3 separate regions of the Homo sapiens genome follow, and regions 1 and 3 are each linked to region 2. Evidence: fine-mapped expression QTL. A gene starts in region 2. Each other region holds a variant in brackets. All regions are shown on one strand. Distances are from middle to middle.

The links.
Region 1: its variant is fine-mapped to the expression of MSH4 in whole blood (TOPMed, PIP above 0.99). The same link has a PIP of 0.9 or more in prefrontal cortex.
Region 3: its variant is fine-mapped to the expression of MSH4 in lymphoblastoid cells (GTEx, PIP above 0.99).

What each region holds. Positions count from the first base shown.
Region 1 is chr1:75,864,856-75,871,434 of GRCh38, forward strand. MSH4 (mutS homolog 4) reads left to right here. Exons shown (of 20, transcript NM_002440.4): 9 at 2,659-2,733. Among named protein-coding and RNA genes, the nearest start is that of ASB17, 64 kb to the right of the region's middle. The variant T/A (reference allele first, on the strand shown) is at 3,124.
Region 2 is chr1:75,793,084-75,799,662 of GRCh38, forward strand. It overlaps MSH4 (mutS homolog 4), which reads left to right and starts at 3,799. Exons shown (of 20, transcript NM_002440.4): 1 at 3,799-4,146. The coding sequence starts at 3,903. It overlaps RABGGTB (Rab geranylgeranyltransferase subunit beta), which reads left to right. Exons shown (of 9, transcript NM_004582.4): 8 at 1,001-1,150; 9 at 1,427-2,003. The coding sequence ends at 1,567.
Region 3 is chr1:75,162,321-75,168,899 of GRCh38, forward strand. It overlaps a transcript of LHX8 not described here. Among named protein-coding and RNA genes, the nearest start is that of LHX8, 31 kb to the left of the region's middle. The variant T/C (reference allele first, on the strand shown) is at 3,188.

The sequences.
Region 1 (6,579 bases), 72 kb after region 2:
GGAAGACTTCTTGCTTGAAGCAGCTGAGACTCTGCTTTCTGAAGAATTTCTCTGGCCATAAGAGAGGCTGGAGGGTATTAGGGAATTGATGCCCTGGCAACAGCTCTTAACCAACACTGAATAGGAGTTGATGAATAAATACCCCATTTTCCTTACCTCTGGAGATAGCTTCTGAAACTTACTCTATTCCATCTCTCAGATGTCTCCATCTGAGAGATGGAGACAAATTGGTTACTTGATCATTAATGTCTCCTGTACAGGTATCCTTTCCTTCTCTGTCTTACTTCCCCACTCCCTTGCTTGTTTTTGCTGGAATTACTTTTTAAAATAAATTATTTGCTCTCAAATTCTAGTTTCTCAGAGTTGGCTTTTGGAGAACCTATCTTGAGTTAGTAATATCTTTTGATAAATAGAAATTCATAATTTAAATGGATCTAGTTTATCAGTTTTTTTTCCCTTCATAGTTAGTGTTTGCTCTGTCCTGCATAAGAAGTCTTTACCTACTCTAATATCTTGATTGTACCCATGGAATTTTAATTTTAATTTATGAAGATGATTGAATGATAACATGGAGACACTAATGCTATTGTTTATTACGTATAGTTCCCAAGAGGAGAGGGCATGTCAGGCAGGACCACCTGGGGAAGTACTAGGGTTGGTCGAGAGGCAGAAGGAGCAAGGAGAAACATGGGCAAAAATGCCAGGAAGTTGCTAGGTAGGGAAGTCACCTGTTGGGCAGGAAGTAAAACACAGATGTTGAAGTTTGTGATTGGAGAGTTTGTAATATGATTTTCACATGCCTGCAAAAGCCAGACTGCAAGGGAGATGTAAACAACTTTAGCTATTAGTTTCACCGTGTGATTAATGGATGCCAAATCATCAATTACAAAATCTATAAAAGTTAATTAGAACACACAAGGCCATGAAGATATTCTTCTTTATTAATTCCAGATATTTTATTGTTTTACCTTTTATACTTAGATATACAATCCATCTGGAATTAATTTTTGTGTGTAGGTTGAGGGAAGGGCCATGTTTCTTTTCTTCCCATATGGATTCATAATTCTACTGGTACTATTTACGGAAAAGACTCTCCTTTCCCCACTGTTCCGCAGTCAACCTTTGTCATAAATCGAGTGCCCATATATATGTTTAGGTCTATTTCTAGACTCTTTATTCTGTTCCATTGGACTCTGTTTTTACGTCAATACCATCATTTCTTAATTACTGTAATTTTATTAGAAGTTGACATTCATTCATTAGTTAGTCTTTCCATCTTCTTCTTCTTCAGTGGTGTGTTAGCTATTTTTGGAATTATCCCCCTGCCCTTTTTTGAGACAGGGTTTCACTTTGTCACCCAGGCTGGTGTGATCACTGCTTACTGCAGGCTCAACCTCCTGGGCTCAAGTGATCCTCCCACCTCAGCCTCTATGTAGCTGGACCACAGACATGTGCCACCACACCCAGCTAATTTCTTAACTTTTTTTTTGTAGAGGCAGAGTTTTGCCATGTTGCCCAGGCTGGTCTCAAACTCTTGAGCTCAAGTGATCCTCCTACCTCAGACTCCCAAAATGCTGGGATTACCGACATAAGCCATTGCACCTAGCATGAATTATTCTTCTTTAGTGATAGTGATGATAGTTGTTTTCTGTTTAGTGAATTTTATTTATTTTTAATCTTCCAGTTAGTTTCAGAGATCCATTGTAAGAGAACATGACATAACCCATTTGGGGCTAACAACATTTATTATGGCATTTTTTCTAAATTGATGCATATGGTCACAGAACAGTCCAGGTATTGTGCAGTGGGGCTATAGACCACGGTACCTCAAAAAGAAACATCTGGCTAGGCATGGTGGCTCATGCCTGTAATCCCAGAACTTTGGGAGGCCGAGATGGCTGGATCATCTGAGGTCAGGAGTTCGAGACCAGCCTAGCCAACATGGTGAAACCCCATCTCTATTAAAAAAAAAAAAGAAACATCTTCATATCAAGTACATTATGTCATAATTGTAGTCCTAAAACTCTACTTCATCTGTCAGTATTGGTAAATTAGTCCAGGCACAGGATCATTCCTCATTCCTCCAGGTTTGGTAACACTGCCCAATTCTAGAGTGCAATTTAATTTATATAAAATTTATTAATAAAATTTGGAATGTTGATATTGCTTTATTTTGGCAAACTATAATTCCTAGTGGAATTATGAAAAGTTTTACTTGAACAAACAGGAACCAATGAGGGAAATCAGTGTTGTTCTATAACTATCTGGGAGGTTTGGATTCAGCCTTTTAAAATATCATCTATCTACAAATACTCTTTGTGCCTTTTTCAGTTAATCTTAGTCTCTTGGTGCTGCTCAGGATTGGACTGCATCTCCTTTTGCTATTCAGTTTAAATTGAACCCAAGAGATTGAAATAGAAATGAAAATTGGATACAAAGAGATGAACTCTTCTCATTTCCAGACTTTTGGGAAACCGGTGTGCTAGGTTAATTATGGTGGGTCAATAATTTTGTATCATTCTTTAGGCTTGCATTGCGGCTAGGCTGATATATAAAAATATATGGGATATGGAAAGAGTAAGAATGTTCAAGAGGAAAACCCATTGTTCTATTAAATATTTATGGTGTCCATCCAAATTTGGGTTTTTATCTTAACAGGTCAATGCTGCTGAATCAAAGATAACAAATTTAATATACTTAAAACATACCTTGGAACTTGTGGATCCTTTAAAGGTAATTTATGTGTGTGTATCGTACAAAACATGTCCAGCATTATTTTTTAACTTTTTGTTGGAAAAAAATTTCAAACTCGGAAAATTGCAAGAATAACATGGCGAATTTCCCATATTTTTTTTCTTTGTACATACTTTACATACACATACACATTGTTAGCCTTATTATGCTTACTGAACCATTTAAGAATAAATTGCAGCACCTAAGTACTAAGGTACTAAGTACTTAGGAGACTAAAGTCTCCCAACAAAAAGATGTTCTCTTATATAATCATAATATTATTATCAAATTCAGAATAATTAATACTGATGCAATACTATTTTATAATATGTATCCCATACTCAAATTTTTAAAATTGTTCTAATAATGTTCTTTATAGCATTTTTTTCC[T/A]GATATAGGGTCCAATCCAGGATCATATCTTATATTTAATGTCATGTTTTTTAAAACTCCTTTGAAGTGGAGAAGTTTCTCAGCCTTTGTTCATGATACTGACATTTTGAAGCATAAGGGTCAACTTTTTAAGTAGAATTTCCTCAATTTATGTGATTGCTTTCTCCTGATTAAATTCATCTGTGCATATTTGGCCTTAATACTCTATGATGTATCCTTTTTAGTGCATCACATCAAGAGGCACATAATGCCATTTCCTCATTCTTGGTGATATTAACTGATCAATTTCTTCACCATAAATTCAGATTTTCTTTTGTAATTAATAAGTTATTAATCTATGGAGAGTTATTTTGAGAATGTGTAAATAACCCAATCCTCATCAAACTTCCACCCATTGATTGTAGAATTAATTGATGGCTCTTACCTGAAGTAATTATTACTCTGATGGTTACAAGATGATTATTTTCTCATTAACTTTTAAATACTACACTGTGTAAAACTTGTTTTTATTGAAGTGATAAAGGGAACTGCTTTTGAAAAAGAAATAATGAAAAATATGGAATAACTTTGTTATAGAGATTATTCTAATAAATATTAACATGGTTTGGCTGTGTCTCCACCCAAATCTCACCTTAAATTGTAAGAATCCCCACATTTCAAGGGCGGGGACTGGTGGAGATAATTGAATCATGGGGGTGGTTTCTCCCATACTGTTCTTTTGGTAGTGAATAAGTCTCACAAGGTCTGATGGTTTTATAAAGCAGAGTTCCCCTGCACATGTTCTTCTTGCCTACCGGCATGTAAGATGTAACTTTGCTCCTGATTTACCTTCTGCCATGATTGTGAGGCCTCCCCAGCCATGTGGAACTGTGAGTCAATTAAACCTTTTTCCTTTATAAATTTCCCAGTCTTGGGTATGTCTTTATTAGCAGCTGAGAACAGACTGATACAGTAAATTTTACCAGTAGAGTGGGGTGCTGCTGTAAAGGTACCTGAAAATATGGAAGTAACTTTGGAACTGGGTAACAGGCAGAGGCTGGAACAGTTCGGAGGGCTCAGAAGACAGGAAGTTGTAGGAAAGTCTGAAACTTCCTAGAGACTTGCTGAATGGCTTTGACCAAAATGCTGATAGTTATAGGGATAGTAAGGTCCAGGCTGAGGTGGTCTCAGATGGAGATGAGGGATTTTTGGGAACTGGAATAAAGGTCACTCTTGCTATGCAAAGAGACTGGCAGCATTTTCCCCTGCCCTGGAGATCTGTGGAACTTTGAACTTGAGAGAGAGGGTATCCAGGGGGAAGAAATTCCTAAGCAGTGAAGCATTCAAGAGGAAGCAGAGTATAAAAGTTTGGAAAATTTGCAGCCTGAGGATACAGTAGAAAAGAAAATCCCATTTTCTGGGGAGAAATTCAAACCAGCTGAAGAAATTCGCATAAGTAACAAGGAGGCAAAAGTTAATAATCACCAAGACAATGGGGAAAATGTCTCCAGGTCATGTCAGAGACCTTTATGGCAGCCCCTTCCATTACAGGCCCAGAGATCTAGGAGGAAAAAATGGTTTTCTGGCCCCGCTTGCTCTGTGCAGCCTAGGGACTTGGTGCTCTGCGTCGCAGTTGCTCCAGCTATGGCTAAAAGTGGCCAACACACAGCTCGGGCCATGGCTTCAGAGGGTGCAGGCCTCAAGCCTTGGCAGCCTCCATGTGGTGTTGAGCCTGCAGGTGCACAGAAGTCAAGAATAGTTTGGGAGCCTCCACCTAGATTTCAGAGGATGTACGGAAATGCCTGGATGTCCAGGCAGAAGTCTTCTTCAGGGACGGGACCCTCATGGAGAGCCTCTGTTAGGACAGTGCAGAAGGAAAATGGGCAAAAGCCCCCACACAGAGTCCCCACTTGGGCATTGCCTAGTGGATCTGTGAGAAGAGGGCCACTGTCCTCCAGACTCCAGAATGGTAGATCCACCGACAGATTGCACCATGCACCTGGAAAAGCCACAGACACTCAACACCAGCCTTAAAAGCAGCTGCAGGGTTCAGGGGGCTGTACCCTGCAAAGGCACAAGGGTGGAGCTGCTCAAGGCTATGGGAGTTCACTTCTTGCATCAGTGTGACCTGTATGTGAGACATGGAGTCGAAGGAGATCATTTTGGAGCTTTTAGGTTTGACTGTCCCACTGGATTTTGGACTTGCGTGGGGCCTGTAGCCCCTCCATTTTGGCCATTTTCTCCCATTTGGAATGGGTGTATTTACCCAATGCCTGTACCCCAATTGTATCTAGGAAGTAACTAACTTGCTTTCCAGTTTTATAGGCTCATAGGCAGAAGGGACTTGCCTTGTCTCAGATGAGATTTGGACTGTGGACTTTTGAGTTAATGCTGAAATGAGTTAAGACTTTGGGAGACTCTTTGGAAGGAATGATTGGTTTTGAAATGTGAAGACATGAGATTTGGCAGGGGCTAGGGGCAGAATTATATGGTTTGGCTGTTTCCCTACCCAAAACTCACCTTGAGTTGTAATAATCCCCACATGTCAAAGGCAGGGCCAGGTGGAGGTAATTGAATCATAGGGCAGTTTCCCCCATGTTCTCCTGGTAGTGAATAAGTCTCACGAGATCTGATGGTTGTTTAAAGGGGAGTTCCCCTGCACATGTTCTTCTTGCCTGCTGCCATGTAAAACATGACTTTGCTCCTTATTCACCTTCTGCCATGATTGTGAGGCCTCCCCAGCCATGTGGAATTGTGAGTCAATTAAACCTTTTTCCTTTATAAATTACCCAGTCTTGGGTATGTCTTTCTTAGCAGCATGAGAAAGGACTAATACAAATATGTATAGTTAAAGTAATGTGGCAAAAGACTTCAAAAATGTTTTCACCTTTCTTGTAATGAAATAAATGGAATAAATCACCAGAAAAATATTGAGAGATTTCATGAAACACAAATTTTAAACTTTGGTATGTCAAAAGCAAAGTAAAAGGCAAAGGTAGGAAAAATTTATAACAAATGACAGTTTATTAGTCTGTTTTCATACTGCTATAAAGAACTACCAAAGACTGGGAAATTCATAAAGGAAACAGATTTAATTGACTCACAGTTCAGTATGGCTGGGTAGGCCTCAGGAAATGTACAATCATGGCAGAAGGAGAAGGGGAAACAAGGCACCTTTGTTACAAGGCAGCAGGAAAGAGAAGGAATGCAGGAGGAACTATCACACACTTATAAAACGATCAGATCTGATGAGAACTCACTCACCATCATGAGAACAGCATGAGGGAAACTGCCCACATTATTCAATTACCTCCATCTGGTCTCTCCCTGGAAAAGTGAGGATTATGGGAATTCTAGGGATTATAATTTATGATGAGATTTGGGTGGGGAGACAAACCCTAACTGTATCAGACAGACAAAATACTAATTTCTGTCATCATAAAACTCATGTAATTTCATAGGAAAATATTGAAATGC
Region 2 (6,579 bases):
TTGTAGGCGTGAGCCACCGTGCCTGACCCAGGACTATATTTAAATGATTTATAAATGTAAAAACTATTCCTACACTATAGATTTGACTCAAGGATTGTAGCTTGCTGTGCCCCTGCCCTCTGAATGGGACGTGGTGGTACAGTAGCTGGGATTACAGTCATACACCACCACGCCCATCCAATTTTGTATTTTTAGTAGAGATGGGGTATCACCATGTTCATCAGGCTGATCTTGAACTCCTGACCTCAGGTGATCTACCCGCCTCAACCTCCCAAAGTGCTGGGATTACAGGCGTGAGCCACTGTGCTCGGCCTGTATTTTTATTTTTAAACCTTAGTATTTCTGAATAACAACGGGTAGAGAAACACCCGCAGTAGCTGTCTACAATAGAGTGAAATAAAAAGCCTGAGGAACTGTCAACAGAAAAATGGGTGGCCGTGGGGAGCACCGGGACCTGCACTTGCACACAATCTAGGGCAGCTTCTAATGAGTCTATGAGTTACTCAGGGATCTCATTAAAATGAGATCAGCCTTGAGTGGGGTTTTCTTTATAGACTTCTGTCACCATATTTTGAAGAGCAAGGGTTTAGTTGATTTTAAGCAGGTGTGTACCCCCCTGGACAGTGCTTGTAGAAAAACAGAACTATACCCATGGATTTCATGATTATACTGCTAGCTTCTTGGTTAAGGGGCTGAGTTAGGCATTCATTGCAGATAGAAACAAAGCAGATGCATGCTTATCAGTGAGTACTGAGATATTTAGCATGGTTACCTATGAATTGAAGTTTGGTCTCTTCTTACCCATTAATTGATTATCTTTCATTCTAAGCAAGTATTTCATACCCTGCATATCAGTATATCCCTGGATTTCGTCCTTCCACATGGTTTGACACTTTGAACATCAGATTACCTAAGAGTGAGACTTAACCCACTTTTAAATTGTTCTCAAAATTAGGGAAATAAAAGAGAATGAAATTGTGGCAACTTTTTTCCCTCCTAGTTACCAGATGTATGCTACTCATGGTGGGTCCTGGCTTCCCTAAAGATAATTGGAAGACTTCATTGGATTGATAGAGAGAAACTGCGTAATTTCATTTTAGCATGTCAAGATGAAGAAACGGGGGGATTTGCAGACAGGCCAGGAGATATGGCAAGTAATATTTCTGACATATTTCTATAAATTATTTCAGCGTTTGCATTACTTCATGGTTCCATGGATTTCCAGGGTGGCATTCCGAGTGTTGCTTTGAAAGCAGTTTTTTTTTCTATTTATTGTAGAGTGTATGAAGGATATAGAACAATCTTACAGAAATTTCTTGTCGCTTGTTGCTAACAAAATTAGTATATGGTAAAGGTCAGGTATTCATAATTTGAAGTTAAAGAAGTTTTCATTTTGTGATCTGTATATAAATTCTTTTTTAAATAGGTGGATCCTTTTCATACCTTATTTGGAATTGCTGGATTGTCACTTTTGGGAGAAGAACAGATTAAACCTGTTAATCCTGTCTTTTGCATGCCTGAAGAAGTGCTTCAGAGAGTGAATGTTCAGCCTGAGCTAGTGAGCTAGATTCATTGAATTGAAAGTTGCATAGTATAGTTTTGCCATTTTAACATTTCTGTATTTGAAGTGCTTATCGAATCTAAAAGTGACTACTGTTAATATTTTGTATATTGTGTTAAATTAATTTTAATAAATTATATAATTATACATATTGTAAAATAAAGACCGGTATTTTATTTTCTGCTTTTTATTCTGAAGTCCTGTTATTCTGACTACAGTTCTTTGTGTATACTTCTGTGTCTGTTATGTTCAATAACTGAGCTAACATAAAATAACTCTAGGTTTCTACTTGATTTTTCCCCCATGTATACCTTTCATCTGTTCTATAGCAAGTTGATGTAAATTGGTTTGTCAACAAGAATGTTAACTGATGAAAGTGGATAGAACCCATACATGAATTAAATGATGCACAAAATAAATGGCTGTTGAAATTTGGAAATGATTGATAGGTTTGAATATGGTTATTCTGAATTGGTCACAGACTTAGGTTAAATGGCAATCTACCATCTTAAAATGGGGTTGTGATTCGGACTGTCCTTTTTTTTTTTTTTTTTTTTTTTTTTTTTAGCATTTTATATATCAGAATTACCCAAAGAAGGAGTTGTCTTCAAATAAGGAAACACTAACGGGTAAGTTGATGGTCACCACAGTATTTTTTTGCACCTGTCTTTTTCTTAAAAAGCTAAAATGGGTACAATCACTCTTTTTTATTTTTTTGTGACAGAATCTCTGTTGCCCAGGCTGGAGCGCAGCAGCACGATCTCAGCTTAACTGCAACCTCCGTCTGCCGGGTTTAAGCAATTCAGCCGCAGCCTCTCGAGTAGCTGGGACTACAGCCGCACACCACCATGCCCGGCTAATTTTTATGTTACTTTAGTACAGACAGGGTTTCACCATGCTGAGGAGCTGGAGACCAGCCTGACCTTGTGATCCACCCACCTCGGCCTCCCAAAGTGCTGGGATTACAGGCGTGAGCCACCACGCCTGGCCTAAAATGAGTACAATCACTCTAGGGGTTTACAGTTTTGGTGAAAGTGAGGTATTCTCTATTTTTAAATTTTATTTTTTAGAGACAGGGTCTTCCTTTCTTCCCCAGGCTGGGGCATAGTAGTGCAATCACAGCTCACTGTAACCTTAAACTCCTGGGCTCAAGCAGTCCTTCCACCTCAGCCTCCTGAGTACCAGGGTCTACAGGTACCTGCCACCATGCCCACTATGCCCAGCTGATTTCTTAATTTTGGGGACAGGCACTGTCTTCCCCAGGCTGGTCTCCGGAGGTGAAGTAATCCTCTGGCCTCAGTCTCCCAAAGTACTGGGATTACAGGGAGGAGCCATCGTGCCCGATCTGAAAATAAGGTTTTTTGATGGAAATTGAGATTTTTCTCAAGTATGTTTGGAATGCCCTGTGCAATAATCATTCCAAGAACAGAGATGTTCTTAAGGACTGTTGTCACTGCATGTGGGTAAACCGCTGTGCATAACTGGTTTATTGAGATACTCAACAGTGGCAGGATTTCAGTAGTGGTGTAAATTAATGTCTTCTAATAGCTTCTGTATGGCAGTATCCAGATAATTTCGTCATGTTTAATCCATGGATCTCTGGTAAGTTGGTACTATTGGCCTTATTTAAGGAATTTTCTAAAGGTCACCACTGCAAAGCTGGAGTTTGAACTTCTAGTGTGCCATTAACTGATTTATATGTTAGAAACCACAGTACTAGAAATTGGTAGATGGGGAATTGTTAACTGAGAGATCTTACCCAGTCAGTCTTTCCCTGTTTCCTACTCTACTATGCACACAGCCATGTGCATACTATCTTTTGATAATATAACTATCTTTCCTATATTTGGTCACAAGATCAACCTTAGGTGGGTTATGCTGTGTGAGCATTACACGTTCTCATTGTGTCAAAGGCACTGGGTGTACTGTGTTGGGTGGTTTCTACATTTAAAGATAAGCTAGTGTGCTTGGACGTGTGGGAAATGCATGTAACATTTGCAATAAGGGAGATTGGGTGCTGTGAGAATAATGGGGCTAACAAATCGGGTGGTCATTGATGGGCCTTGCAGAGTTCTGGTCAGTCTGATACCTGCAGGCTGAGGATGTTCCAGTGAGGTTCATGTGGAAAGTGATGGGTTTGGGAATGGCTGGAAGCAGGGTCATAGACCTGAAGTACGTGAATCCATGTGGAAAGCTGAGCCTGCCTGCGCCTGCGCAGTGCAGCTTAGTGCGTCGGCGCGCAGTTCTCCCGCCCGTTTCAGCGGCGCAGCTTCTGTAGTTGGGCTACTGGAGGGGTCGCTCAGAAACCTCATACTTCTCGGGTCAGGGAAGGTTTGGGAGGATGCTGAGGCCTGAGATCTCATCAACCTCGCCTTCTGCCCCGGCGGTTTCCCCGTCGTCGGGAGAAACCCGCTCACCTCAGGGTCCCCGCTACAATTTCGGACTCCAGGAGACTCCACAGAGCCGCCCTTCGGTCCAGGTGGTCTCTGCATCCACCTGTCCTGGCACGTCAGGAGCTGCGGGCGACCGGAGCAGCAGCAGCAGCAGCCTTCCCTGCCCCGCGCCAAACTCCCGGCCAGCTCAAGGCAAGGAGTGATTGGGTGGAGGAGTCTCCTTGAGGCTAGAGGCCGGCAGTTCATGGAGGCTCGGGGGCACGTGGGTGGTGGTTACCACAGTGAAGTTGTGATTTGGTTGGGGCGTGAGATCTGAGTGCCCTGGGAATTTGGTGAGTCTGGGTGATTAGAAGCCTTGACTTTTCAAATTGGTTCTATTGCAAGACCTTGACTGTGGATGGCTCAGTTCTGAGAAAGGCTGAAGTATCCCATATAACGTCCCTCACAGTGTCTGACAAATGACAGTTTGTGCGTGAGTTTGCTGATAGAAGTTGTGAGCTGATCTTTGGCTGCTGAATTTAATTCTCCAAATCCTGCTAAGGTGGGATAAAATAGATTAAATTGAACATTTCATCTAATTCAGGGAAAATAATATGTTTAGTATTAAAAGAGTGGGCTGGGCGGTGGCTGACGCCTGTAATCCCAGCACTTTGGGAAACCAGGGTGGGCGGATCACTTGAGGCCGGGAGTTCCACACCAGCCTGGCCAACATGGTGAACCTCCCACCCCCATCCCCTATCTCTACTAAAAGTACAAAAATTATCTGGGTGTGGTGGCACGTGACTGTGGTCCCAGCTACTCAGGAGGTTGAGGTGGGAGGATGGCGAGTCCGGGAGGTCGAGGCTGCCGTGAGCTGAGATTGCGCCACTGCATTTCAGCCTGGGTGACACAGTGAGACCCTGACTCAAAACAAACAAACAAAAAAGATGCATGTCCTTCAAATCATTTATTATTTTGTTAGTCTCTATTCATGACAAAGCATCACCATTTTTCACACACGATTGCAACACAATGGTAAAGTAACAAATACCAAATCCAATGGTCATTTTTCAGTTCATCTCATGTGACCTTTCTGCTGTATTTAATGTTCTTAATTTCTTTATTTTTAGAAACAGAGTCTCGCTATGCTGCCCATGCTGGTCTCAAACTCCTGGTCTCAAGTGCTCCTGCCTCGGTCTGCCCAAGCATTGGGATTACAGGCATGAGCCACTGCTGCCTGGCCTATGTTTAATGTTCTTGACTGGTCTTCTCTTAAACTCTTTTAATTTGGCTTCCTTGATTCCACTTGCCCCTGTTTTTCTGCTACCTCCCAGAGAATTGCTGTGCCCACCTTTGTTCCCAAATTATGGGCATGTCATTAAAGCTTTTTTTCCTAGGCCACTTCTACCTAGATGTGACTATCTCCACAGCTCAGATCTCATCTACACTCCAGACTTACTTCAGACTGTCTTCTGAAGTTTTTATTGATGGACTAATGGATACCTCAGGCTGACTATATGATTAATTAAATTCCTCTCTGCACTTTTTTTTTTTTTTTGAGACAGAGTCTTGCTCTGTTGCCCAGGCTGGAGTGCAGTGGCATGGTCATGACTCACTGCAGCCTCAAATTCCTGGGCTCAAGCGATCCTCCCACCTCAGCCTCCCGAGTAGCTGGGACCAAGGCATGTGCCCCTACAGATGGCTAATTTAAAAAATTTTTTTGTAGAGACAGTGTTTTCCTACGTTGCCCAGCCTGGTCTCGAACTTCTAGGCTCAAGCGATCCTCCTACCTCAGCCTCCCAAAATGCTGGGATTACAGGTGTGAGCCACTGCACCTAGCCCTCAAACTCTTAAGTGTTCTTCCATCCTTGTAGCTTACTTACTGTACCACCAGAGTTATGTGGAAAATGATCTTATCATGTCCCTTGCCACTTAAATCAGTAGACCTGTATCTGCAGGTAAAAGATCAAACTCTCTAGAAGGATAGCCAAAGCAATTGGGATCGGTTTCTAATCTTTACAGATTTATCCCTCATCATTTAATATTTACCCTGCTTTCTAACAAAACTGAGCTACTTGCAATTCCTTTAAAGCAACATGAATGTTCACATTGTCAGTCTAATCCCTCTCTTCATCAGATGCTTGGTCACCCACTTATTTATCAGTAATGATAACATTCACTAATTTATATGCACCTACTTTGTTCTGGCTTCTTACTAGGCAGACGGTATCTTTGATCCTCACAATAATTTTGCAGAGTAGATTTTTTTTTTGTTCCTGTTTTACAGATAGAACCAAGGCCCAAATAGGCGAACAAAGGTTCAAATTATGTTAGCAGCTGGGGATAATAATCTGTGCTCTCAATGAACTTAAGGTTCAGTAGAGAAGACAGACTTAAAAATCAACAAATACACATTTAAGAAATAACTGTATTTGAGGTATTTATAATTTTTGAGGTAGGTATAATTAAAGTATGGGGACAAAAGTGGGAAAAGACATTTCACAGAGTAAGTGCACCTTGAACTGGTCTTCAAGAATAAGTAGGAAGAAGAATGCCAGCCAAAGGGAAACAGCTGGAGCGCATTCTTGAGAAAAACACGTGCAAAGGCACAGAAGAATCATGTAAAACTGCTAATAATTTTGCTTG
Region 3 (6,579 bases), 630 kb before region 2:
TTGAGCCTGATGCTAATCTCTGTGGGTTTTTGTCTACCTGTCCCAGGCATGAAGTGATGAGGTCAGCTTTACCTTTACCTGATGTCTAGGAAAGCTTTTGTAGTATAGCCAAGCTCTGCACTGTTAGCAGTTTACAGCATTTCCCAGCTGACTATAATTGGCATCCCTTAGCTTGGGAGGTGGCTGATTGTGAGTATTCATTTTTATTTGCTGTCTTTTTCCTGTGCTCATCATCCTCTGACTCTGTACAGAGAGTTTTTACAAAAATATATCACCACCCTTTTTAGTTCCAAAGATGAATGCCCAAAGTTGAAGTAAAACTTCCTAACAAAGAGGCTCAAAGCTATCAAAATAGATGAGATTTATATATCCTGAATATAAAACTGTTAATCATGAAAAGAGATAGATGTGAAAGTACTAAAAATATGATATGTGATAGAAGCTTCTGACTTTGCTATCTCTAGCCAGAGATCTTATTTTTAAAACCTAATATTAGGAAAGAATTGAAGTATTTCCATGCTAGTAATATTCAGTGTTTAAGTATGTGAGCACAATACTTACTTGAAATTGAGTATGGTCAGCTTTTGTGAAGATTAGAGAAAGAAAACTCTATATTGTTGGAGTAGCAAAGATGTGGGTAACAAGTAGTTATCTCTTAGGTGTGAAGACATTCATGAGCTGTGAGAGGGTAGGATACCTTTTTTTTTTTTTTGCAATTCAAATCAAGAATCCCATTCAAACATTGAAATGGAAGTCACACTAAGTCAATACTCTTTAAGTGATTCTTTTTATTTGGACAAGGTAGTATTTAGTAGTAGTTTTACATTTGACAAATGTCATTTTTAAAATTCCACATCACTCGTTGTAAATTATAAGTACACCTGTTTTGAATATCCCATAATAAACATTGTTAGATAGAATCACAGCTCATGCTTTTAAAATTTGTTACAGTCATCTGAAAGCTGATAGCTGTAGTATTTCTTGATGTGGTATATTATGTGTATAATTACTCTACTAGCATGATTAAACTAGGTGGCATATTGGGACTTTTGTTATGGCATGGATGACTTTACCAGTTAGCAAAAGTAATGTTTCTATTTTATTATTTAGAACAGAAGTAATTTAGGTTGCAATACACTAAGTACCAAAAGTATATTAGTGTAGGAAAAATTCTCAATGGCTCCTACCGGAGGAGATAAAGAAACTGATATTAGCACTATATGATTTTTACTCTTTTGAAACACAACTAAATATTTAGATGGATCTGAGTCCAAAACAAGTTCAGGTACACTGGATGACATCTCATAAACATCTACTTGGATTCAATCAGATAGTAAGTACTATTTTGTAGCCTACATTTTCCCTTTAGTAAATATCTTTACAAGTCAAATATTACCTACAATATCATTTTAATTGATATATAGTACTATGTCCCCTCAAATTTCTTGTATTAAAACATAGTCTGCAATGTGGTGGTATTAAGAGGTAGGGCTTTTGAAAGATAACCAGGTCATGAGGGAAGAACCCTTGCAAATGGGATTAGTGCCCTTATAAAAGAGACCTAAGGGGCTTGTTTGCCCCTTTGGCCTTCAGCCATGTGAAGACACACAGGTGCCATCTATGAGGACTGGGTCCTCACCAGACAGAATCTGCTGGTGCCTTGATCTTGTTCACTACCTCCAGAACTGTGACCAATACATTTCTGTTGTTCATAAATTACCCTGTCTGATATTTTGTTATAGCAGCCTGAATGGACTAAAACATATAGTATTACACTGCTTGAATAAAACAATTTTATTAGATAAATAGGTTGTATCTAACTTTTTATTATTATGAATAGAGCCTAACATTGTGAGCACTTTCAGGATGTCCTGTTTGAGTGCCTCAGGGGTATTTTGATATGTATTCACAGCAACTTCATGAAATGGATTCTATTATCACCCTTATTTTACAAACATAGAAATTAAAAAATTGATATGTCCACTATCTTGGTGGCAAGTAACAAAGCCAGTATTTGGATTTAGCAGCTCAGTGATTCCAGATGCCATAATCTTAACCACTATGCTATACTATTACCATTTTAAATGACACTGTGAAGGCATCTTTGTGGCTACCTGCTACCTTTTAATGTATATTCTTATTTCCCCAGTGTGAATTCTTGGAAGTGGAATGGATGTGCATGCATAGGTTTAAAAGGCTCTTGAAATGCATTGATTTCCCACCAAATGTTGCACTAAATTACATCTCCACCAGCAGTGTTTGAAGTGTTTTTGGAACCCTTGTCTGTCCTGCCTAAATTGGAGTTGATAAATATTTTTTAATCTTATACTCAAAAATACAATTTTAAAAAACTTTATTTATTACTTGATATAAAATTGTAGTTTGCATTTCGGAGAACCAGTATCCTTTTTTTTTTTTTTTTTTCCAGGCAGAGCCTCGCTGTGTTCCAACTACTGGGCACAAGTGATCTTCCCAAGTAGCCAGAACTACAGATGCATGCCACCACACACCACACAAATTTTTTTTTGTAGAGACTAGGTCTTGCTATATAATATGACGCACAGGCTGGTCTCGAATTCCTGGGTTCAAGCAGTCCTCCCACCTGTCTTCCCAAAGTGCTGAGATTATAGGCATGAGCCACTACGTCCAGCCGAAAACTAGTATCTTATAAAGGGGCTAAATTTAAGCACAAGCTGCCACTTTTGTGACTTTTTTTTGCCTTTAGTTATTCTGCATATATTACTAAAGTGAGCATTCATTAGGATTTTTTCAGCTGAGGTTTCATTCACTTGATATCAAATGTTTTACTTTAGTACCTGGCACTCTATCATATTCTGTTTTCTTTGTTGCTGATTATGGTGATAACTTTATTACATGGTCCTTCATACTTTTTAAATGCGTTTCTGTATATCATCATGCTCTCATTCAACAGATGAGGGAATTGAAATTTAGGAAGCTTCAATTAACATAATTAGGCCTTTGGTTTTAATATGCAAGAATTCTCCAGGGCACCAGATTATTTTTATAAATGTATAGAGATCTTAGGAGAATAAATTAACAAATTTCCCCCAGTTCCTTGAGTTTCATAAGAAATAGACTGCCATAGGCTTAGAGGATGTGAAAACCACTGCAAGGAACTGCTTCTCCTTTTCTAAATTGTCATCAAGTACAGTACTTACCACAAAGA[T/C]CTGAACTTGCTAGGGGGCTGAGAGTGGAGTTTAGGGATGGACTGTGTATGGGCACTTGTATGGGGGTATCAATGGAGGAAAAAAAGATGTTAAGAAATAAAGAATAGAAGGGGTCCTGGGGAGGTAGAAACAACATCTGTCTTGCTCTCCATTACATTCCCCAGTTCCTGCCACCAAGTAAGCACTCAGGGATTGAATGAGGGTGGTAGAAAAACAATCAGAATAAGACTCTATGTTTGAGCGTCCTAGGATAACTTCAAATTCCAAAACAGATCTTTTCAAATCCTTAAGGAAAATATTCTACCCTTCCTTTAGCAAATATCTTATATACCTGTGGCAATTTATATTCTTTTTACACCATTTAGCATGGAATGGGAGACAGCTGGATTTTGACACTTTCTCTGACACCAATTAACTGTATCCCAAGGACACTTAAGCCTCCCTGCATGCTGATTTCCTCAACAGTAAAAGGAAAGTTTTTATGAAGCAAAAGTGAGATGAATGGAAAAAAGACATGGTAAAAACATGATCCATTAATTTTGAAGGGCGGGGTTAGTGGCAGGAAATCAGGCACTCTGAGGCCGGGCAGTTGGAGGTGATGGAGCACCAGAAGTTTGGCAAGCACTGCCCTATCCCAGGCAACCCCAGGAACAAAGCACTTTGTGCATTTCTTTAAATAAAGTCAGAGGTGGAGCATCTATGCTGCTAATGAGTTACACATTCTCCAGCAAAGTGTTTTTACTCCAACCTCCCTACAAATGGAAAACATCTACTTCCTGTCTACATTAACTCCCTTCTTGATCTTAAAGAATTATTCAGTCAAGTAGAGGTGTGACCTTCTGTGATTTGGATGTAGAGAGTCTGTAAAATTTAGTTTGCAGAAATGATTTGAATGTTTTCCAAAATAATTTTCTTAAACCCAAAGGAATTATGATGCCATATTTGAAAATGGAAACCATTGTTACAAATTCAATTTCAAAATATTTACTTCCCGGAACCAGGGTGATGTCTCTAGAGAACCACTACTAGTTATTAGCTCATTTCTTTCAGATGTATTGGAATAAGTCTGTTATTTTGCCAGCATGGTTCTGAACCACAAATTTCATCTTTGGTTGAAACTCCTCCAAGCGAGACCATATGCAATTTTCCTAGTTCATCATTTGTCTTTCAGAAGACAGCATGGTGCATTTATGACAATGGTAAAAACATGTCTCAGAAGTCTTGGTGAACAAAACTAGCTTGACAGGCTCCACAGTAGAGCCTAGCACTTGCAAAGGGTCATCAATGGAACCAAGGTGGGAGAAGGATCGGGAAACTTCTAACAAAGACTTGGATCCAATCCTATAATGGGCTTCCTCTCCTGTTAGGATAGAATGAGGGCGATGAGACAGTCTACAGGAAATTCATGGGCTCAGAGGAGCATGCAGTGCTCATGTAGGGCAGGGGATAAGGTGTCGAAGTGGAGCTGAGCTGGCACAGGAGCAGGCAGGGCAAAGGCAGAGTTGCAGCCTCTGTGTGTCACTTGCCTGCTTGTGTTCTAATCTGAGAGTGGACTTCTGGCCTTTGTGAAGCATTAGTTTATTCTGCTCTGTCATGGACATCTGCAGGAATGGCATGGCAGTAGGGCTGAAGCTACATTACAGACAACATGGAGAAGTATCACAAAAACTTTCACGTCATGCTGTCTGGAGTCCTCGTTTTGCCACATCCCACCATGGTGACTGTGGGCAAGTTATTAAACTGCGCTGTGCCAGAGTTTTCTCATATGCAAAATGGACTAATAATAGCACTTTTCCCAAATGGTTATTGTGACCCTGTGATAAGATAGTACATATAAAGTACTTAGAAAAGTATCTGGTGCACAATAAACCCTGAAAGTTATCTGTATTTATTCCTTGGTAAACTAACTCCTAACACCAGAGGAAAAAAAATGCCACCATCTTTCACTAGCTTTCCCTCTCCTTTCTCCATTTCTCTTTTCCTGACTAACAATTCCTCATCATCCAGGACCAAGCTCAAATATCATCCCCTCCAGGAAGCCTGCCCTGATTGTTCCCCACACCCCACCCCAATGTGGGTGAGTTCTTTGTGTTCCCATCATTTCCTCAAAGGATATCTCTACACTTTAATAAGTTTTATTATAATTTTCCTTCCTCAGTTTTGTCTCAAGATTAGACTAGAGACCCTAGACTATTCATGTTAGGGTTTCTAGGAGCTAGCACAGGGCATTGACAGAGCAGTCTCTTGCCATGGTTAATTTACTCCATGCCAGGATCCCAGGGACAGCCTTTCCCCAGCAACTCCTCAGCCTGGGCTACACGATGGCCCATGGAAGTTCTCTGCCTCAGATGGAACTGTTTCTTGTTCTCTTCGACTAAGCAAAACAGACAGGTTGGGTCATTATCGAGTAATTCAGGCAAGAGAAGCAGCCAAACACATGTTTTTATCTGAGTTACCCAAATTGGCTGACTCCCCAGCCTGCAGTTACTGGGTAATTGCTCAATCTTCCATTTGGCTTTTACTGTGTAAATGTGGCTGCAGAGTCTTTTTATTTCTCTCGAATGGCTCCTCCCATTTTCTGTCTAATATAGGTTAAAATGTAAAGTTTTCTTTTTCCTCTGCCCGCAGTAGCTGTCTAGGCCATCAGCACACCTTGCTTCATTAGCCTTCAAAGTGGGCCAGAATGGTCGGATAGGTATCTAGTCATAGTTTTCTGTTTGTTTGTTTGTTTTAGACAGAGTTTCACTCTTGTTGCCCAGGCTGGAGTGCAATGGTGTGGTCTCGGCTCACTGCAACCTCTGCCTCCTGGGTTCAAACTACTCTCCTGCCTCAGCCTCCCAAGTAGCTGGAATTACAGGCACCCACCTCCACACTTGGCTAATTTTTACATTGTTTTTTAGTAGAGATGGGGTTTCACCATGTTTGCCAGGCTGGTCTTGAGCTCCTGATCGTAGATGATCCACCTGCCTCAGCCTCCCAAAGTGCTGGGATTACAGGCGTGAGCCACTGCACCTGGCCTGGTCATTGTTTTCAATTTGTCCTGGATAATCTGCTGTCAACCCCTCTTTTTTTTTAAAGAGAGAGGACGCACAGGAAACACATAACTCAGTCATATGTTTCACACACTGGGAGCTTTTCCTGTTCTGGCCTCAGGTGCAGGAATTCTGAAATCCCTTTCTCAGAAGCTATGACCACAGCTCACTGTAGTTTGTGGAAAGCTCACAGGGTCTGCTTTCAAGTAGTTAGAGCCTGGTTCCAATTCCAGTCCAGCCTCTTACTACCTATGTAACCGTGGGCATATCACTTACCAATTCATCATATGCTGCTTGTTTTACCCTTGAAATGTCTCTAGAATTTACCTGCTTCCCCACATCTTTGCCATTCCTACCTA